Linked DNA regions of Homo sapiens. The protein of the gene in region 1 purifies or fractionates together with the protein of each later gene. This does not show direct contact. Each region holds a gene or a part of one and is shown in the gene's direction. Other genes may lie near its edges.

Evidence for each region. The genes of interacting proteins can lie anywhere in the genome.
Region 2: the proteins of TNKS1BP1 (region 1) and CNOT7 purify together in Homo sapiens (affinity purification with mass spectrometry; 6 studies listed by BioGRID and IntAct, with this or other methods). This does not show direct contact.
Region 3: the proteins of TNKS1BP1 (region 1) and CAPZA2 purify together in Homo sapiens (affinity purification with mass spectrometry; 6 studies listed by BioGRID and IntAct, with this or other methods). This does not show direct contact.

What each region holds. Positions count from the first base shown.
Region 1 is NC_000011.10:57,321,953-57,329,639, reverse strand, and holds the start of TNKS1BP1 (182 kDa tankyrase-1-binding protein), read left to right. Parts: upstream 1-4,687; 5' UTR 4,688-4,800; intron 4,801-7,311; exon of another isoform or gene 7,312-7,403; intron 7,404-7,687. Other genes in the region: FACT complex subunit SSRP1, read left to right, coding at 1,214-1,343, 1,758-1,928, 2,126-2,214, 2,751-2,937, 3,162-3,233.
Region 2 is NC_000008.11:17,229,849-17,236,876, reverse strand, and holds part of CNOT7 (CCR4-NOT transcription complex subunit 7), read left to right. Parts: intron 1-2,016; coding exon 2,017-2,161; intron 2,162-4,339; coding exon 4,340-4,450; coding exon of another isoform or gene 4,451-4,456; exon of another isoform or gene 4,457-5,365; intron 5,366-6,028; coding exon 6,029-6,157; 3' UTR 6,158-6,700; coding exon of another isoform or gene 6,701-6,742; 3' UTR 6,743-7,028. UniProt on the Homo sapiens protein: Has 3'-5' poly(A) exoribonuclease activity for synthetic poly(A) RNA substrate. Its function seems to be partially redundant with that of CNOT8.
Region 3 is NC_000007.14:116,858,360-116,865,595, forward strand, and holds the start of CAPZA2 (F-actin-capping protein subunit alpha-2), read left to right. Parts: upstream 1-4,227; 5' UTR 4,228-4,252; coding exon 4,253-4,291; intron 4,292-7,236. UniProt on the Homo sapiens protein: F-actin-capping proteins bind in a Ca(2+)-independent manner to the fast growing ends of actin filaments (barbed end) thereby blocking the exchange of subunits at these ends.

The sequences.
Region 1 (7,687 bases):
TTTCATAAGTTCATATTACTGCGGAGTCTGGGGATTTAATTGGCTTCAGACACTACTGGATTCAGGCGCTCAAATCTATTTCTTCCGATTTCCTTAATTAAAAATAGGTTTACCCCATGGGGTGCCCAGTGACTCTCAGAAGCTCAGGGCAGGCTTAATCCTACTGGTTTAAAACAACACCAGAAGTGCCTCTTTTGGTGAACAGCATAGTGAACACAGTGGTTACCTGCCCCTTTCTAGCCTGAGTTATTAGAATGGGCTGGGGTCTGATGGGCCAGAAATAGGCCAAGTGCCCACCCTTAGAGCCTGTGGTTGGGGTAAGCCCTTCCTGAGTGGGGGCAAGGTGGTTCCCAACAGAAAATTGGGACTCTGCTCTCTTAATCCAGAAGGATTGTAAAAGAATGTCGGGCAGCAAAAAAAACACCCAACAGGAGTCCTCTAGTTCAGCCTGCCACATGCTTATGAAGGTTTATGAAGGTTTAATGAGCAAATACTTGTGAAAGTGCCTTGAAGACTGTCCAGCAGCATACAGGTGTAAGGTAGTTGCATTGTTTGAGGAGTTTCACATATATCAGACAAGACTGTCAATTACAGGGGTAGGCACTGGGTTGGACTGAAGTTGGTTTTCCTCTTTTTGTAGTAACTGATTATCTTTTCATCAGAAGACTGTAGGGGCCAATCCTTTTGTAGTTCATAAACATAATGGTTGGGTGTTACGTGCGTGTGTGAAATGTGCCACCCTCCAGCCTTGTTACGATGTTGACACATTACCCATCTGACATGGAAAAAAAAAGAAGACAAAAAAGACTATAGGGTAGATTAAGGTGATTACTCCGAGGGAAGTGGTGAAGTGGATTTGGGCCATGTTCCAGGCATGAATGAGGCAGTGTTTCTGCCAGTGGTGTCCTGGGGATGGACTAGGACCTGGTTTGGCCATGCCCAGGGAGATCCGCTGAAGCTCATTGATTTGTTTTTCATTCATTAATTCCAATCAAGTAACCAATTGCTGTGGCTGGGTCTGGAGAGGGCATGGCTGAAGCCACCACAGTGAATGGGAGAAAGCAGTGTTGGGGATTGGTGGTGGATACTGTCCTCTGGTCTTCCTCCCTTGCCCCTTTTGGGTGGGTATCTTTGGATTTGTCTTCCTCCTGTCCTGAGGCCGTGGGGTCCTGTCTTCCCTCCTCAAGTCTAAGCCTGGCTTGTTCTCTGGCAGGTTTGACAGCAACGCCTCTGCCAGCTCCTCCAGTAATGAGGGTGACAGTGACCGGGATGAGAAGAAGCGGAAACAGCTCAAAAAGGCCAAGATGGCCAAGGACCGCAAGAGCCGCAAGAAGCCTGTGGAGGTGCAGACTGTAGATGGGAGGGCCTGTGTGTGGTGCAGTGGGTGGGGGGCGTGGGAGGCATTCTCTTTACCTTCTCCTGTCCACCACCAGTAGGACCTGTTCTTCCTTGGGGCTGTTTTTTATAGCCAGTGATTATAGCCTTGAGGGTTATCTTCTTGGAAATTTTTCTCACTAGCCCTGAGATTAATAAGCTTCTGGAAGGTCTGAATTAGGAGATGGGCTTCTGTCCTGGTAAGCTAGGCACTGAATTGCAGAGGGGAAGGAGATACTATCCTTGCCCTTAGGGAGCTCTCGTCTCGCCTGATGCTATTTAGTCCTCCACTTTTTCTCCAAGTTAAGTGATCTAAATAATTTATTTGGGAAAATGTATGGGTTCTGTGGGAAATAGCTGAAGGCATTTGGGTTCTTATGTAGGTGAAGAAGGGCAAAGACCCCAATGCCCCCAAGAGGCCCATGTCTGCATACATGCTGTGGCTCAATGCCAGCCGAGAGAAGATCAAGTCAGACCATCCTGGCATCAGCATCACGGATCTTTCCAAGAAGGCAGGCGAGATCTGGAAGGGAATGTCCAAAGAGAAGAAAGAGGTGAGTAGCAGCAGAGGAGGGGTGATGCCTCTCATGGGCTGGCGAGAGGTGCTGTCTTGGGGTGGCGAGTCTCATGACTGATAGGGGAGCAGTATGAGCCATTGGTGGGACTTTCTGTATCGATTTTGCCTGCATCAGGGGAGAGGGGAGATGGGAGAGGTCTTATTCTTAACTGTTTTTTTCTGTGTGTGAGACAGGAGTGGGATCGCAAGGCTGAGGATGCCAGGAGGGACTATGAAAAAGCCATGAAAGAATATGAAGGGGGCCGAGGCGAGTCTTCTAAGAGGTGAGTGTCGAGAACATGGCCCAGTCACTGATTTTTGTGGCAGACTTTTTTTTTTTTAACAGGCCGAAGTTGAGCATTGGAAAGTTAAAGACAGCAGAGATGCTTCTGACTGCAGTAGGGTAGTGCTTCTCAAACCTGGGTAGGCCATTGCCCAAGTATGGGTGACACAATAGGGCATTCAAGTCACTGGGGAAATATGGCCTCTTTTCCTGGACCATTTTATTTGAAGGTATGGGGGAACGAAAAAAATACTATTATGGAGTGCAGTGCACAGTTTGCATGAACTCTAAAAGATAAAGCAAGAAATATCAAGTAGGTTTTGCACATTGGGCTGCTTTAGGCTGTGCCCTCTGATTCTTCTGGTGTACTCATGATACTCTCCCTTGGTGCCCTCCAGGCTGACGCAGCTATTTACGTTCAGAGTGAAATGGGCTGTGTGGCTGGGATTGGGAAAGGCCTTGTTAAAGCTGGGAGAGGTTTGGTCATGGTGACAGGGGACCTGAAGGCCCAGCTCCTCTTCCCTCTTGCCAATACAGGGACAAGTCAAAGAAGAAGAAGAAAGTAAAGGTAAAGATGGAAAAGAAATCCACGCCCTCTAGGGGCTCATCATCCAAGTCGTCCTCAAGGCAGCTAAGCGAGAGCTTCAAGAGCAAAGAGTTTGTGTCTAGTGATGAGAGCTCTTCGGGAGAGAACAAGAGCAAAAAGAAGAGGAGGAGGAGCGAGGTGCGGCAGGAATGTGGGGCCTGTGGGCTGGGCAGGGTGAGGGGCATGTGTGTCTGTGTGGGGTTGGTCTGTAAGAGTAATGAGTTGGAGTGGATGGTGGAATTCTGAGGTTCTGAAGGGGGGTGCTGTAGTTGGGGGCGGTAGGGAATTGCGGGCCCTTCACTGAAGAGTGGGTGGGGCACCCAGGACTCCAGCTTTTCCCTTAAGACACCTTTGGTTTTCAGGACTCTGAAGAAGAAGAACTAGCCAGTACTCCCCCCAGCTCAGAGGACTCAGCGTCAGGATCCGATGAGTAGAAACGGAGGAAGGTTCTCTTTGCGCTTGCCTTCTCACACCCCCCGACTCCCCACCCATATTTTGGTACCAGTTTCTCCTCATGAAATGCAGTCCCTGGATTCTGTGCCATCTGAACATGCTCTCCTGTTGGTGTGTATGTCACTAGGGCAGTGGGGAGACGTCTTAACTCTGCTGCTTCCCAAGGATGGCTGTTTATAATTTGGGGAGAGATAGGGTGGGAGGCAGGGCAATGCAGGATCCAAATCCTCATCTTACTTTCCCGACCTTAAGGATGTAGCTGCTGCTTGTCCTGTTCAAGTTGCTGGAGCAGGGGTCATGTGAGGCCAGGCCTGTAGCTCCTACCTGGGGCCTATTTCTACTTTCATTTTGTATTTCTGGTCTGTGAAAATGATTTAATAAAGGGAACTGACTTTGGAAACCATGTCCTCATGCTTTCTTTGTAGCCTTGGTGTGTTGCTCCCACTTTTATTGGTGGTGTTTACTGCTCTGGTCAGACTGGGCAGGGCCTTCCTGGCCAGCCGGGAAGCAAGTCTCGAGGTACATCCTGTTCTGTTCCCGGCTGGACGAGCATTGGTTTTCACCCGCCTCTGCCCGGATGGGCCACCTGAGAGTCTAGAAATGAGAGCTGATCTGATTAGGAAGTTTCTCCCAGTTACACTCCATTAGCCAACCAAGCTAGGGGGAGGCAGCTCTTGGCTGCATCCTTACCTATGAGTCAAGGGTCTTCCAAGGCTTTCGATAATGAAATCAGGATTGACTGTCCTTCCCGCAGCCGGGGGAGTGGAAACCTGAGCCTGGAGAGTCGGGGAGGATGAGCGTGTGCGTAGAGTGGTGGTGGTTGCAGCCTGGTGGTGGTGCAACAAAGTACGGAGTTATATGTGAAGCTTTTGTTCTTACGGGAAGAAGGGGGTATACAAACTTCAGTGTAGGGAGGAACCCATGTCTGAGAAGGGGCCTAAAAGGAGATAAAGGTCACTAATGAGGAATGCAGAGCTGCCAGACTTCTTCACGGTGGCTCTAAATCTGAATTGACACAGGAGGGTGGCCACGTTGCGCGCGTTCTCAGCACTCAGGTGGTTGTATCAGGAAGCCGCTTCAGTCAGCCGGCGGCTACCTTCTTGCCGGCGTAGCTCGATGATACTGTGCTCTGTGCAGGCGGCGGAGCCCGGGAGGGGCCGCCAAGGCAGTTTCTCTAGGCAGTCGTCTCGGTGGCCATTTTACCCGAGCGCTCCCGGCTGAATTGCGTCAGTTTCGCCCCGGTCTGAGACTGGGGCGGGCCCCTCATCTGCAAGCCTCATGAATAATTGAGTGCTGGGCCGCGCCTGTTTGCCGACGGTGGGACGAATTCTGCACGGGCTTCCCACTCCCGGGTTCCAACCGGCTCATGCATATTCATGAAGCGCCCTGGGGGCGTGGACCTGGGCGGAGTTGGGGCGGGGCCCCGCCGGGGCTCGCAGTGGCTTCGTCCCGCGGTGACGGCGGCGGCGGCGGCGGTAGCAGCGGCGGCGGCGGCGGGGACTGGCATCGGGGCCCCGAGCCGAGCGGAGCCGGACCCCGGGCGAGCGCGTGAGTGCGCGGGGGCGGTCGGGCGAAGGAGGGGGCGGGGTCCGGGATGGGGCGGGGGAGGGGCATGGAAGGAGTGGGTGCTTTCCAGCCGACACCTCGGGTTGAGGTGGTGGTGGTCGGGGGGTCACCAGGAAAGTTTGCAGGGGCCGAGGGCGCTGGGGACGCTGGAGGCCCGGGGGAAGGTGGCGCGTGTGCGCGGAGGCGGAGGGCGCATGGCTTGGAGCTCGTGCTGGCAGAGCCAGAAGAAAGGGGGGAGGGGGCGAGGGCTTGGGGCGGGGCCGGGGGCGGGCAGAGCCGCTGGAGGGACCCCTGCCTCCCCTTCCTCCGGGCCGCGCTAGCCCCCTCCCCCGGCTCCTTCGGCACGCCCCCAGCCACCCCAGTCCGCCCCCACCTGATCGACGTCTGCAGCCCACCGTCTGTTCGCCGGCTGCTTCACAGCCCGCTCACAGGTCCTCCGCTTCTGCCGCCACCGCAGCCCCCTCCTCCTCCTCCTCTTCGGCTGCCGCCGTCCCTTCTGTGTCCAGAGCTCCCCACTGGGCCCCTCCAGACAGCCCATTGCCCGGGGCTGTTCCATCTTCCCGTTGGCCCTCCCTCTTTCCAGCAGTTTACGTGCTGTCCCTGCCGACCTCTCTAGCCTCGGATCCGGCTGGAGATCCTGGGGTCCATAGGGGCGACCCCGCCTGCGCCGAGTCCCCTCCGGGGCTGGAGCTGCCCAGCCCTTCTGGAGGCCTTATCTGCCAGGGGTCAGCTCGTTTCTACCCTGCTACCCTCTACCCCCTGGTCTCTTGAGGGTGGGGAGTGCTCAGAACCGCTGCGAATCGCAGCTTCTGGCCACAGCCTTGGTGGCCTTGGTCACCTGGGGCCCCTGGCTGGGGTCTCTGAGTTGCTGTGGCCACCTCCGCACCTGGGGACTCTGAGCCCGCCTTCATTGCTGCAGCCCCTCATACCGCAGAGGGGCCCATCAGAACCCCAGGTGAAAGGATTTTTTTGGTTCTGAGCCAATTAATTTCCATCTCCAACCACCCACACTATGTTCCTAGTAATAATGTTCAAGGACAAGGAAACAATCTTGTGTTTTAATTTTATTTTTTCTATCATGTGCCCCTCCCCCCACCACACTTGGCCTGGCTCTGCACAGTTATTCACCCACCCACAGTGGGCAGTCTTCCGTGGTGGTTAACTGACCAATGGGTTGACAGTACTGGGTTTCTCTACTGTCTTCATACCCTCTCCCATCTTTGAAACACCTGGGGCAGGGTCAGCGTTAGGGGAGGGGTGTTGGATTTTGCAGAGGATGAGCACTGGGGGTCCCTTTTAAGGATTTGGTGCTGTCTTCCCAGACCAGCTGGAGTGGGTGACTTTAAGTGAGGCAATGCCCCTTGCAGGTTGGAGAAGTTTGGGTTGTCCTCAGGGCTCTGCATACCAGGTGAGGGAAACTTCCGCCTTGCATGAGAGGTGCAGGGCCCTATCCCCCAGGGTCTCCATGTTTTTGTGGGTGGGAGAGTGCTTCAGGAGTCAGGATGGGAACTGAGGAGGTGGTTGGAGTATCTGAAGAACAGGTGACAGGACTAGGGCCTGGGAGAGTGAAGGAATGGTCTGGGAATGCTGGTAGCCTGGGGTCAGGGAAGAGGAGGAGGTGGTTATCAGGGATGTTAGCTCATTGGTGACACTGAATGGAATCACAGTAATAATAGGCAACATTTGTTGAACACTTATTATGTGCTAGGCATTGTGCTAAGCCTATTTCATGTACTATTTCATGTAAGCCCCCTCAGGGTCTCAATAATCCCATTTTTCAGTTGGAGAAACTGAGGCTTGGAGAAGTCACAGGGCTAGAAAGTGGTAGACCCACCCAGCACTGAATCTTGGTATATCAGATCCTGAAGCTCATGTGACAGGCTTCTACCACCAGGCTGTGCCTCTTGGTTTAATTTCTTCTGTCCCCCTCAGAACTCCTTAAAGCCAACCCTAGGCTGGTGAGTGAAGCCCACATAACCCCTTTTCATACATAGGCTGTGGCTGCTCCACCCTGACTGTCGTGGAAGGTGGAGCCCCAGGGAATTTTCCCCCAAGTCACTCCACCCCCCGGATGTTCTCAAGCCCTGTCCCGTTCTCCCAGCCCAGGCCTGGGCCGGCTCCTCCTTCCTCTTGGCTAGGCCCTGGAAATCCAGTGGGAGGCCATTGCTATGGCAACAGGACTAGGCCCTGGCTTTACCTCATCAAATTCCAAGCTGAAGCCAAGCGATTGAGAAATTAAAGAAAAAAATATATTCCAGATGTTTACTTTTTATTCCTTATTTTTCCGTGTTTGGATGAGACAGTTCTGAGGGAGGGGAGAGAGTGGGGCAGGGATGTGGAAGGAGAACAGGGAGAGGGGGGAGAAGGAACCACTCCCAGCTGCGGGAGGGAGGGAGAGAGGGAAGGAGGGTGAGTGGGAAGGGGGAGGCAGGCAGTGGGGCGGAGCCCAGGTTGGGGAGGAGCGGGTTTTTCCCGTCTCCCGTGAGGTGATTCACAGACAGACTTCATACTTTGCAGCTCTCTAGCTCTGCTTTGAGTAGACACCTCCAGCGGGGCCGTCCTACCCAAGGGGCACTGTGGGGACTGTAAGTGGGGTGTCTTGGAGAGCTTGTCAGAGGAGGGAGCAGTGAGTGACTCCCTGAAGCGCTAGGACTTTGGGGTTAGGAGATAAGAGTTGGGGAGGATCTTTGAAGAGTTGAGGATATGGCTGTTGGGAACCTCCCTTGACCTCCTCCTACCCCCCCCCCCCCACTCCAAGTTCTCTCTTCCTGTCCCACACTCTGCCTCTGTTAGAAATAGGAGACTTCTCTCTGCTAAACCTACTGGCAACGCCCAACTCTTTTTTTCCTTCTCTTCTCTCTCTTTTCCT
Region 2 (7,028 bases), on another chromosome or scaffold:
TTCTACGGGGGAAACCATTCACTTACATTTACACAACGTTATTGAGTATTTACCATATGGCAGGCACTGAGATGAGATTCTAGGAACTAAGGTGTGAATAAAACAGATGAAAATTATTTTCCTCATGGAGTTTATATTCTCATGGGGGTGGGCAGACAGTTTTTAAAAATGGAGTTCACGTTGTGATTTGTTAGATAGTGATAAGTACTATCTCAAAACAGCAAAGAAAATGCTAGGGATGGGTGTGGAGATGGATTTTAATTTTTTTTTAAAGTGATAAGGCATCCCTTAGAAGAAATAGCTTGAAGACTTGTTTTAATGGTCACCAAAATACTTTATAAACAGTAAATTCTCAATAAGTGGTGGTTCTAAATTCTTTATTGTTATGAAACTAGATTATTTAAGAGTGTTTCTGGTAAGGAAACTATTCCGATTTTGTGAAATAGACTTCCAGGTATGAAAAAGAGTTTTCCCATCTAAGTAAACTAAACTGACGTTCCAGGGACTAAAAGTAACCTTCAGAATGATATTGGCTTTTGTTAGGTTTTGAAAAAGCATTGTGTTACATAGATGTTAATACTCTCATACTTGGTCCACTTCACACATGTATCTTAAATCTGAGTCTCCTGCATGTTTAGTTTCTGTCTCTGATCTGTGGGATGTTTATAGTGAAGGACTGTTCATGTGGGCAACTTTGATGTGTACTAACCAGAAATGGTTGAGTTGTAGGTACTGAACACACTCATTCTTACCTATCATCTTTTTTGTCTCTTCTGCACTTGAACTTGTACCTTAGGAAACATAACTTAAGACTCTTGATACAAATACCTTTTTTTTAGTCATTTTTCTTCCCTAGATATGAAGGTGCAAAAGAACTGGAAAGTATTGCCCTTCCCTTTTACTGTATATGACATACCCTTTCATTTAAAAAATACTCTGACAAAATACAGTGCACTAGGCACTGGGTATTAAGATGAACAAAAACAAACAGGGTTCATTCATGTCTTCTTGGAGTTTAGAATCTAAGTTAGACTGATATATTTGAATATTTATCAAGATAGAAGATTTTATTCCATTAAATATCATTAGTTGTTTTCCTCATATTCTAATTTCAAGTAATGAAGAATAGTTTAAGAAGTTTATAAATCCTAAGCGCTAATATAATCTTTTAATGTTAGTGAGCAAATGTCATATAGGCTTCCTGTTAGAGGTCCTTGGAAGGAAAGGTAGACAAGGGACGGACGTGTCTAAGTGGCCTGGGAGTGTAGGGAGACAGAAAGCTGTGCGAAAGGCCGGACAAAGGGAGAAGAGTTCTGGATTTGAGAGTGTAGGAGTTTGCATTTTATGATCAAGAGAGTAGTTATTTTTTTACTACCCTTCACTTCTTCCATGTGCAGCATTTCCATTAATAATGACTCTTAGGGAGCCACACTGAAAGGAAGAGAATTGTGAAGGAAGAAAAGGGAGAGACTACTTAACACAGTCATTTAAGAGAAGTGAAAATACCTTGTTACAGTCTTATTCTTTGGATAAAGTATATGACCACCTTATGTAAAAGTGGGATGACTTGCATTACTTTTGTCTACCGAATGCCAGTTCTCTTGCTACCTTTGCTAACTCTTCTGGCCAAGTTTCCATTCATCTTTATTTCTCCATTTCCATAGTTACTTTAAAAAATATTTTGAGACATCTGTGGGCAGCTTGATACTCTTCTTGGTGTTCTCTATTCAGATATCAACAAAATAGTATTTTATTGACCATAGGCTGGTTTGGTAGTGTAGGTCTGTGTTGATATCTCTGAATAATAAAGTGATAAAGTTCTTAATACTGTAAGATGACGACATTTTCTCATAGTTCTCAATATGTTTGTTTTCTCTGTTCTTGTGTGCACTTCTCTTTAATGTTTTTGGGAGGGCTCTAGTGTGACTTGCTTAAATTTGAATCAGAAAAACTTTTTTTTTTAATCTTTATAGTATTTATATGTCCCTCTTCTCTATTCTTTTAACCCTTTTATAGCGGTTACGACTTTGGCTACTTAATCAAAATCCTAACCAACTCTAACTTGCCTGAAGAAGAACTTGACTTCTTTGAGATCCTTCGATTGTTTTTTCCTGTCATTTATGATGTGAAGTACCTCATGAAGAGCTGCAAAAATCTCAAAGTAAGGCTTCGGATGGCATTATCTACAGCAGCACACTGTTCAGACCAAGTGACTGTCATGCGAGCCTAGGCTGGGATGTTGTTTTAAACCATATTTTAAAGTATTACAGTGAATGCAATTATATTATCTGGTCATGTGATTTTTTTTCTTGCATACATAATTTGTAGGGAATCCTTTTTTCAGAGCTTCAGTATGTCTTGGCAGAAGGCAGAATTTTCAACACATTTCAGGCTTAGGTCCGGTTCTTGTCACTGCTTGCCAGATTGAAAATCACAAACCAAAACACAAATCTGAGGACATTGAGGCTCTCATATGCACGCCATTGTGAGTTGTTACTTTCTCCCAAGACGCATAGAATCTGTTCTTACAAGGTGGAATCTAAGGTGGCCAGCGATATGCAGATGTATTTAGTAGTGTGGCAAAAGTTTTTCTTTCCTTTTGGCTTATCTTGGCTAGAAATTATTTTGTCAGTTCTAGTGATAGGATAATGCTCCTAGGATTAAACTATATAGCTAAAAGATTTTTCTGTGGCCAAAAGATGTCAGCTTGTTACAGTTAAGTACTATGGGAAATGTGTAGGTCCTGCCTAGATAGTAGTAACATTTTGACGCTGCATAACATGTATTTTTAAATTCTAAACATTAATTCTTTTTTTGTTTTTGAGACGGAGCCTTGCTCTTGTCGCCCAGGCTGGAGTGCAGTGGCGTGGTCTCGGCTCACTGCAACCTCCGCCTCCCGGGTTCAAGTGATTCTCCTGCCTCAGCCTCCTGTGTAGCTGGAATTAACAGGTGTCCATCACCACACCCAGCTAAATTTCGTATTTTTAGTAGAGTCGGGGTTTTACCGTGTTGGTCACGCTGGTCTTAACAGATAACTGAAGATGAGAAGCTTTCTTTTGGCCAGTGTTTACCTTTAATACATGATATGGTCAGCATATGACTAGAGAAATTTTCAAGAAAGATTATTTTATGTTTGTAGCAGTAGACTTCTGTGTAATTTGAGGGGACTTCCAGGAAGTGAACTTGCAGTAGGGTATCCCTTGCTTGAGAAATTCAGCCCACCCTGTGAAAGCACTGCATGCTGAGGCCTACATGTTTTCATCTGACTTTTTTTTTAATTGACATGTCTGTATAATGATAGTTTTCAGGAACAGGGAACCAAATTATTGCTCATCATGTGGTTGTTACTGGGAAGTTTCTAAGTACAGATATTCTGAATGTGTCCTGAGTAAGCTGCTGTGTTAAAATTCAGGTTAACGACAAAGGTGCTTTTTGACCTATAGTCAGCCATGCTGTTCTATTCAGTTCTAGTTCTGTTCTCCTAAGCAGCTGCTAACGATACCTAATCCTCGTGCTATTTTTAGCGCAGAAGCAACTGCTGTGCAAAGCCTTGTTTCAAGCTGTGATGCACAGAAGGGCCATTTTGCCGGTGGAGGCCTTAACAAGTTAGAGAAGAATTTTTGTTTTGTTGTTGGTGTTTCTTTCCTTCACGCTCTACTTATTCTCCCCTCCCTTTACTCTCCTTGCCTGTCCTCCCACTTTCTTTCCTTCTGTTACTGTCTTTCTCTTTCTTTCTTTCCACTCTTTCCACTCTCATCTTTCTTTTTTAATCTTAGGAGTATTAACATAGGTGGATTATAGCAGACCACTCTAAGGAGTTGTGTGCATATACTCGTCTTAACTAAGAAAACCATAGTGAAGCATTTAGCATACTCTTAATGATTATTCATAATGGCTTTGTTTTGTAAAAATTAAGTGAAAACTACAAATGGATGGTGGGAAGTTTAAGAAAATATGAAAAAAATGGTGTTATACTAGCTTTTCAGTTTTATAATTATTACTGGATTGATAGACTATGAGTGTACTTGATAAATATTACCCTATATGTGGTCTGCTTCCTTCCCATATCTAGGAGAGTATTTACCTGTCATATGCCCTAAAACATGATGAAAATACATTTTCCCAATTAGGATCTTGTTTTCTATTAAATGATACTTTTTCCGCATTCAACAAATACATTAGTAATTCACATTCTCTGTTTCTTCCCCCCAATCTTTATAAGATTCACCTTTACATACTAAAGTTTATTTTTATTTTGGTCAGCGTCTAAGTTTATAATTTGTGAATTTAGGCCTTGTAAGATTTTTCTTCTTGACAAGCAATTTTTTATTTTTTCTAGGGTGGATTACAGGAGGTGGCAGAACAGTTAGAGCTGGAACGGATAGGACCACAACATCAGGCAGGATCTGATTCATTGCTCACAGGAATGGCCTTTTTCAAAATGAGAGAAGTATGAAGACATCACTGCCTTTTTCTCAGTTGGTTGTTAGGTTGAGAACATTAAAAATCTTGTGGCCAAAGATTTTGGGCAACAAGTACCTACTAAGTAAAGATATAATTAGAGATACCATATGAGTCACATCCACCACACTTAAAAGTATTCAAAAATAAGTCATCTTGAAATGTAGTTCAGAAGGAACTGGGAGAACATGTTCATCATAGAACCAACAATTTTAAAACATAAACTACCTGAGAAGTCATGTAGGTCCAACCATATTATTTCTCAGGTGAGAAAACAGGCTAATAACTTCCATGATTAAACACATTACTAGTGGGAGAACTCCAGAGTTCTTTTCTGACTCCCATTGGTGCTCCTCCTACAAGGCAAGGAATCTTTATATTAGGTTTATTCTAGCATGACCCCTTTTAAGGTTTAAACTGGTGATAAATATATTATTTGCTCATGTCATTCTTCAGTGCTTTGAAGATTTTATAGAGAAGAACTCAGGCTCTTTTACTGCATTGAGTCTTAAAAGGGGGGTTGAATTCCGAAGGGATCAAATAAATCCAACGTAGTAGTTGCATCAGAAACCATATTAGGAAAACCCTCCTTAAACGGCAAAAGGCAGAGATCAGTTCCTTGAGTATAAAGTGTTAGGGATGGAAGAATGAAACTAAATGAACCCATTATCTACTCCTAAGTAATTAAGTGATGTGCACAGATACACCTAGCTATAGGTAAACAGGAAAATTGGTTGTGCAAAAAACAAGTGAGGTTTTTCTTGACTATAAGTTTTCCCTTTTGGAAAAATTCGCTGTGGATTTGAGTATATTTTCTCTTAGACATTAAATTGAGACTGAGAATTTAAAACTTTTTGTAGCAATGTATTGATAATAGAAAGCATTAAAGCTGTTTTGCTAAGTAGTGTTGTTGATTCAGAAGTGATTTGGACTATCCATTCATGACACGTAAATATTTTGTTTTGGACTCCTTCCAATTGTTTCATTAGATAATTGAAACAACCTTTTGGATTTTTTAGCTTTGCATTTTAAAAATGTCTTAATGGTTTATTTAACTAAAGGTGGATTTCTGGCACTAATTTATCTTTATTTTTCTTGGCTTCTTCAAGGACAGTAATAGAGTGTGAATGTTTGGATTTTACTGTCCATGACTTTATGGTTTGATCATTTATAGCCAGCTCAGCCTTGCATACAGATTTAAGACAGTTTATGAACCTAAACTTTTTTTCCCCCACCATCATTGGCTTTCTTCATTCTTGAGTATTGTTAAATTAATGGAATAGTTATTTTTCCATGATGAAAAATTCTTATAAAAATGGTCTAAATGGAAAAGACATGCATTTATACACTTTTTTTGTAGTCTCTTTCTTTGGTTTCTGAGCTCTGTACTTTTGAGGACATTAGTCTTACTCATTGAACTGAAATGCGTAGCCTCAAAGGAACACCATAGAAAAGAGCCATCATTATTGTCAGTGAACAGTCAGTACTTACATTGCTGAAATATAAATTACAAGTGGTTCCTTTTGGTTAAAATTATCTTTTTTTTTTCTTCAAAATTCCTTTTTAGATGTTCTTTGAAGATCATATTGATGATGCCAAATATTGTGGTCATTTGTATGGCCTTGGTTCTGGTTCATCCTATGTACAGAATGGCACAGGGAATGCATATGAAGAGGAAGCCAACAAGCAGTCATGACATGAAATAGTCCTTTTATTTTTATTTCGAGCTACACACATGCTTGTATATAGGTTTTATCTCTGGTTGAATCCCTCGAACAATAGACAGTACCTTTCCCCCCCCTTTCATGGCCCATTTTATTGTCTGCCTTTCAGTACTAAGTATGACCGTTCCTATCTCAGATCTTAATAAAAAGAAAAAAAAAAACGCATTCAGGTTAAATTTGGCCTTAATTTAATATACTTGTTAGCAAGCGTGTGTGACAGAGAGTGGGGAAAGCTACATCATTGAATATTTTGATAAACTTTACCGACTTGAGTTTGGTTTATTTTTCCCTTTTCCTAAATTAACTAGCACTGACTGTAATTTATTTCCCTGTTTCACGTCTCTCCCTTCCATTCTGCAGGAGTTTTAGCTATTTGAGATCGTGGACCATCAGTTTTGCACTTTAGAGAGTGTTTCTGACTCTAAACCTGTTTTATCAGAAAATTTGTTTTTTCTTGATCTTAGCTGGAAAAATCTGCCAACTTTACACAGTATTTACTTGGTTTTGACCCACAGAATATAGCACGTTGTGCAAACTGTCGATTCAGCGAAACTTAAAAAAGACAAGAAACTACTGAGGAGCTTAGTAACTGCTGTTTCTGTACGTAGTGTTTAATCTTCCAAGCACATCTAGTGTCTGTCAGTTTCTAATTGGCATGTGTAGGCTGCTCTGTGACTGAAGAATTTTCAAACCAGCTTTACACCCTTCAGGAAAAATCCCTTGTGATTGGATGTTTACTATCTGCCAGGAAACTGGTACTCAAGATGTTGAAGCTACAGTTATTTTATGATAGCACACTTCCCTTGATCTGCTTATTTTTATTCCATCACCATTTACCCTTTT
Region 3 (7,236 bases), on another chromosome or scaffold:
GTTTTCTGGTGCAGAGATGGTACTATAGAAGTCTATATCTGGTACAATCACTTAATGATCACACAGTAATACTATTATTCATCTTATTTTACATTATTTGGTATGGATATGTACATAAAAGAACATGAGTCTGACCATCAGGATACTTGGATCCTAAAATAATATTAGCTAGATGTGCAATTTTTATTATGTCATTTATTTATCTAAGGCTCAACTCATCTGTAAAGAGAGAGGTTTGTAGTAGATGCACCCTAAGATTGTTTTTCTGTGAAATTGGGTAACCACTGGTCTTGACAAGTTTAAAACGTAGTTGAATAATTCGAGTATATCCATAGGAAAATCGATGTAAAAGTATACAAGTAACTTAAAAACAAACACTATAAAAGGAAGAAAAATTCTGGTGATGTTAATTGGAAAGACCAAGATCAGACCATGAATAAGCAGAAGAAAGGTAAGTTTGGCCAGGCGTGGTGGCTCACACCTGTAATCCCAGCACTTTGGGAGGCCAAGGTGGGTGGACCACAAGGTCAGGAGTTCGAGACCAGCCTGGCCAACATGGTGAAACTCCATCTCTACTAAAAATACAAAAATTAGCTGGGCATGATGGCAGGTGCCTGTAGTCCCAGCTACTCGGGAGGCTGAGGCAGGAGAATAGCTTGAACCTGGGAGGCAGAGGTTGCAGTGAGCCGAGATCATGACACAGAACTCCAGCCTGGGCAACAGAGCGAGACTGTGTCTCAAAAAAAAAAACAAAAACAAAAAACAGCCAAAAACAAAAAGAAGAGAAGTAAGTTTGGAAATTAATTAAGAAAAGGGTAGAAATTCTTAGTAGGTAAAATCATGTATAGGATAAATATTTTGTTTATTTTCTCCTCCTCATAAAACAACTGATTATCCAAGACTACCAGTACATTTTTCCTTGCAGTCATATAACAATAATTTCATATTTTACCTATTTGTGTGACAGCTTAAAATCTTTCTAGAATACATAGGCTACGCAAATTTTAGAATTCCTTTTAATTGTACCAAGAGGGTGGTATTGGAAGATTACTGAAAAGATTATCAGAAATTATACATAATTGTGGGTTGTGTCACTATGGGAAACCACATGTATTGTATCACTAAGGTTACAATTATAAACACACTCTGACTCAAATTATTGCAAAACATTACCATATTTGGGTGAGGTTTCTAGAGGAAGAGAGCAGCCAATTAATCAAGCAATAATATTTGCTGAGTATCCACTGTATACAAAATACTAATATAGGTGTTGCTGAGTAAACAGGAAAAAAGACAGGAAAAAAAACAAAACCAGAAGTACTGCTGATGCAGCACAGGGTGGTGAATTGAATTTACAGGATGGGATAGTAATTGCCTTCATTAAGTTTTATTTGGTGGACAGTGCCCAGACTTAAGAGGAAGAAAGAAAAATCTTGCAGTGGAAAGAACATGAAATATAAAATAAGATGCCTAGGTTCCAATCCCAGCTCGGTCACTTAGGAGCTATGCAATCTTTTTCTTTCTTTCTTTCTTTCTTTCTTTCTTTCTTTCTTTCTTTCTTTCTTTTTTTTTTTTTTTTTAGATGGAGTTTTGCTCTTGTTGCCCAGGCAACCTCCGCCTCCTGGGTTCAAGTGATTCTCTTGCCTCAGCCTCCCAAGTAGCTGGGATTACAGGTGTGAGCCACCACGCCCAGCTAATTTTTGTATTTTTAGTAGAGACAGGGTTTCCTCATGTTGGCCAGGCTGGTCTCAAACTCCTGACCTCAGGTGATCTGCCCACCTCTGCCTCCCAAAGTGCTGGGATCTATGCAATCTTAAATCATTTAGCCTCATTTTTTTCTTCTGTAAAATGGGTATAATGGTACTGATAAGAACCTCACTTGAGGTTGCAGTGAGAAATCAATGAAGCAATGATTTGTAATCTATAAGAGTAAACATGTTAATTTTCATCCAGTGTTACCCTTGGTTAAACTATGTGGTTTATTCTCTTTATCTTCTTCACAACGTTTATCCTCGAAAGGACACCTGCTTTTTTCTGCATGTGTCAGCATGCTTCTCCTTCCTCTTCTCTCCCCAAATGAACCATCAGTTTTTCAATATCATAGCTTCTGTTTGCCGTCCATTCACAAAAAACAATGATTTGCACATTATGAACACCCAATAAATTACTTAATAATAAGGTCTTGCCTCTGAACATTTATTTGATACTCTCACATTTCATTTATGTGCAGCTGTCAGATTCATCTTGCTGCACATATTTCTGATCATGTCATGTCACTGTTCAAAAGTTCTCAACAGTTCCTCACGGAATCTGAACGCCTATCTTAAACCCTAAGGCCTTACCACTCAAAATGTGGTCTCCAGATCAGGAGCACTGGCATCAGCTGGGAGCCTGTTATTCTACAGGCTGTATTCTGGAGAATACAGATTCTCCAGTCTCATGCCACATCTATTGAATTAACAACTTCGTTTTCACAAGATTCCCAATTGATTCATATCTACGCAGCTTTGATTACATGTTTAATCTCTCATAAACTTCAAGCTTCAAAAGCAGGGTTGCTAGATTTAGCAAATAAAAGTAAAGGATGTCCAGTAAAATTTGAAAACAATGAGTAATTTTTTGGTTTAAGTATGTCTCCACTGCTTCATGGGACATACTTTTTAAAAGATTGCTTATCTGCAATTCACATTTGATTAAGTGTCCTATATTTAATATGGCAAACCTATTCAGGAGGGTAGGATCCATGTCTAACATAGCTTTGTATTCCCCTGGAATAGTACAGTGCCTTCCCCAACTGTTTTTGTTTTTTTTTGTTTTGCTTTTTGAGACAGAGTCTTGCTCTGTCACCCAGGCTGGAGTACAGTGGCGCGACCTCGGCTGACTGCAACCTCCGTCTCCCGGGTTGCAGGGACAGGGACAACCTCCGCCTCTCGGGTTGCAATGACTTCTGCAACTCTCCTGCCTCAGCCTCCCGAGTAGCTGGTATTACAGGTATGCGCCACCACGCCCCGGATAATTTTTGTATTTTTAGTAGAGACGGGGTTTCTTCATGTTGGCCAATCTGGTCACGAACTCCTGACCTCAGATGATCTGCCCACGGAGGCCTCCCAAATTGCTGGGATTACAGGCCTGAGCTACCGCGCCCGGCCCCAACTGTTCAATATATGTTTGTTTAATGAGTAGAAAATGAGCTTCTTGAGTATGGAAGTTTCTCTTTTTATTTCAACAGTTTTGGAATACAGGTGGATTTTTGGTAACATGGATAAGTCCTTTAGCGGTAACTTCTGAGATTTTAGTGCACCCATCACCTGAGCAGTGTACCCTGTACCCAATACGTAGTAATTTATCCCCTCCCCAGTCCCCAAAGTCCATTTTATCATTCTTATGCCTTTGAACCCACATAGCTTAGCTCCCACTTATAAGTGAGAACATAAAATATTTGGTTTCCCATTCCTGAGTTACTTCACTTAGAATAATGGCCTCCAGCTCCTTCCAAGTTGCTGCAAAAGGCATTATTTCGTTCCTTTTTATGGCTGAGTAGTATTCCATGGTGTATATACCCACATTTGCTCTATCCACTCATTGGTTGATGGACACTTAGGTTGGTTCCATCTCTTTGCAATTGCGAATTGTGCTGCTATGAACATGTATGTCTAGCTTGCTTTTTTCCCCCTCAACACTGTATCCCCAGAGACTAACACAGTGCCCCGCACCCCGTTAAAGAACCAAAAAATATTTGTTGGATGAATAAAGGAGTATATCAAGAGCAATCTTTCAATTATGGAGAGGGTCGTGATGTGTATTTTAATGAAAGCCAACTATCTTCTCTAATATTTGAAAAAACAATGTTTAAAAGGCTTCTATTTGTACACCTTTTCACATTTTAGCTGGCAGAGTTCAGGACTTGATGGAAACATAACGAAGGGCTCAGAATGTACTCATCGCAGACTGAGCCCATATGGTCACAGTGGGGAGAGCACGCTGCACTCAAGATGCTAGCAAGCCTGCAGCAGGCGGCCCAGCGAGACACGGTCCCCCGCCCGGCCACCAGGCGCCCGCGCACGCGCACAGCCGCGCTCAGTCCGCGAGGGCCGGGTCGAGGGAGGCGGGGCTCCCGGGGTGCGCGTGCGCGGCGGCCTGAGCGGCGGGCCCCTCCCTTAGCGGGGGCGCGCGGCGCTGAGGACCGCACGGAAACGGGGAAGTCAGGTGGCCGCTGCCGCCGCCGCCGCCGCGGTTTGTCGCCAGAAGGAAGATGGCGGATCTGGAGGAGCAGTTGTCTGATGAAGAGAAGGTAAGAGTCGCGGGGGCGACGGCGCGGGCTGTCAGGAGCCGGCTCAGCCCGGGCGGGTGGGCCCGGAGTCTGGTCGCGGGGGAAGGGCATTGGCCCGCAGCTGGCCTTGCCCTCGGCTGCCCTTCCTCCCCCATCCTTACTGCGCCCAGTGCCTGCCCCTGTCCGTCACCCGAGGCCCCGCGCGGGGGCAGGTCTCTGCCAGGCCTGCTCGCTCCGCTCCTTGTAGGGTGTGTACTCCGAAAATAGGAAGCGGGAGCCGGGCGACGGCGGGCGGGGGCGCGGGCGCGGGGGAGGGCGGCGGCTGCCCAGGACCCTCTCCTGCTGTCGGGCCGCGGGGCCTCCGCCGGGGCCGGGGACCGGGGACCAGGGACGCAAAGGGGTTTGCGTCCGTGCGTGGGAGCGGCCCAAGGGCAGTGCCCAGCGCGGCGGCCTGGCCTGTGAGTGTAGCGGCGGGTGAGGGGAAGGGAAAAATCGCTTAGGAAGCAGACCTTCACTTCTCCCTTCTACTTCCCCCTCCTCAAAGCAAAATGCTTCCTTTTCTGATCCTCTACGGTTTATCCTTTTTTTTCCCTTTCCCCATGGAGGCATCTCTCCCTCCTTCTCTCTTTCCTTTCGTGGCTCTAGCAGTAAGCTTGCAGCTCCCATGTTCCCCAGGAGGCAGCGGAGTTGCTCACAAAAAGACGACCCCCTCCCCATAGTTGTTTTCTGCCCACGTTGGCAGCAGCCCCCCCCCGGGGGTCGATTTGGTGGCACCTCACTTTCCTGCTAGGACTTCTTCCGAAGAGGGGAAAATGTGCAACTCCTTTTACTGTATATTAGATGCTGTGACAGCAATGGAACCAGATGAACGACTTAAGTTCTCAGATATTTAAAACGAGTAATGGAATAATTCATTGAACTGCTGCTCTCTTAATTCGCCCCTTTCGTTTGGCTTTTGGGAACGTCCCATTCCCGAGGGTGGTGGGGTAGGGGAGAACCCTGCTAATTTTGACTGTTTCTCGGAAAGGACCCTTAGAAGTAACTGACAGAACATAGGAATGAGTTAGTTGCAGGGTTGGAAATGTCCACTCTTCGTTAAAGAGTGCTTCATTTTTAAATTTCAAAGCCAGTGCAGGAAAATACAGGTACATTTAGGTATGTTGTGGTGTTTAAGAAATCTTCATGTAAGTCTGAGGATATTTTCATTTAGGACCCTCTGCTCTAGATGTTTTTATATGCTGTGTTCTTGCACCGAAATAGAAGGTTCTGTCCCATTCCCAATGTGAATGGTCAGAAGTCAGCCTCATCTTTATTTTCGGAAATCTTTTTTTCTCTTGTGTTCTTCGGTGAAAGTGATAATACAACAACAAAATGGGGGCGAGCAACGTCTCCATAGCCCACAGACCCAGTAGGCAGATCCCCGTATCCACAAAAGTTGCTGTACAGTATTCAATGTATAATCTTGATAAATAATCCTATTTTATTTAGGTGACTGAAAGTGTACAGGAGTGCACAAACATATTTAAAATTGAGGCGTGCTAAAAAGCTTAAAAAGAGATTGTCGTGTTTTTATTCTACCATTCTTAAGTGATGATTAGTAGCTCAAGTGGCTAGAAATCTAGCTGAAGAGAGACTACTCGGTGTGGGAGTTAATATAGACCTGCCATGTGTTGTAAAGGCCTAAAATAAAAAAGTTTTTTAAAAATGAGATAACAAGATGCCTTATTATCTGGCACTCTCAGGGCACTAAGCTTCATAAAGAGGAATGAGGAGGTTGTGTGTCTTAAAGCCTGTGCCGCCTAGTAGCAAAATGTTTTATGGTTAAATGAATGAAAATTCTAATTTGATTTTTGATGTTTTGTAAGAATATTATGTAGATATTTTACATATAAATTTTATCACTATATTTACTAATTTAAAAACTGACAAAACCTTTAGGTTAAATTCAAGTAACCAGTAAAGTGAAATTTTAACGTTCTTGTCACTTGAGATATCTAAAGGTTATTTTCATTTTGGGGGAGGAGGATGTGTCCAGTATGGGATCAGAAAACAGAGAGGACTTAAAAGTGATATTTTAATATTACTCGTTCTACTGCCTTATTGGTAATTTTCAAAAATAAGCTCTTAAGCTGGGCACGGTGGTTTGCACCTGTAATGCCAACTACTCTGGATGCCAAGGTGTGGAGGATCGCTTGAGCCCAGGAGTTGTAGACCAGCCTGGTAACATAGCGAGACCTCATCTCTAAAAAAAAATATTAAGTTTTGAATACTTTTAAGTTTTTGAAATTTCCATTCTAGATTGCAAATTTAAGGAAGAGAAGCTGTTAAGATGTGTCTAGTACCATACTTTATATATGCTTGGCTCAGTTAGATACATTCATTACTTAATTTGTTGTTGTAAGAGGTAGTTCTATTACCATTTCACAGATGAGTAGAGTGAGGTTCAAAAGCTTTAAGTAGTTCACCCAAGGACGGTCAAGATGAAGGTAGTATTTAAAGTTTGTCTTAGTCCAACGTTGATGTTCTTGTGACATTATGCGCTCTCTTCTTTTTTTTTTTTTTTTTTTTTTTTTTGATACAGAGTCCCACTCTGTCACGCAGGCTGGAGTGCAGTGGTGCAATCTTGGCTCACTGCAACCTCTGCCTCCGGGGCTGAAGCGATTCTTCTGCCTCAGCCTCCCGAGTAGCTGGGATAACTGGCACATGCCACCATGCCCAGCTAATTTTTGTATTTTTAGTAGAGACGGGGTTTCGCTATGTTGCCCAGGCTGGTCTTGAACTCCTGACCTCAGGTGATCCACCCCCCTCGGCCTCCCAAAGTGCTGGGATTACAGGCGTGAGCCACCATGCCCAGCAGACATTATGCTTTCTTAAACAAAATTGATAAGAACCTCTTCTGGTTTTGTCTCTTCATTTTTAATTTGTTGACAGCTTATTTTGAAAAAGGAGAAACGTTGATTCTTCCT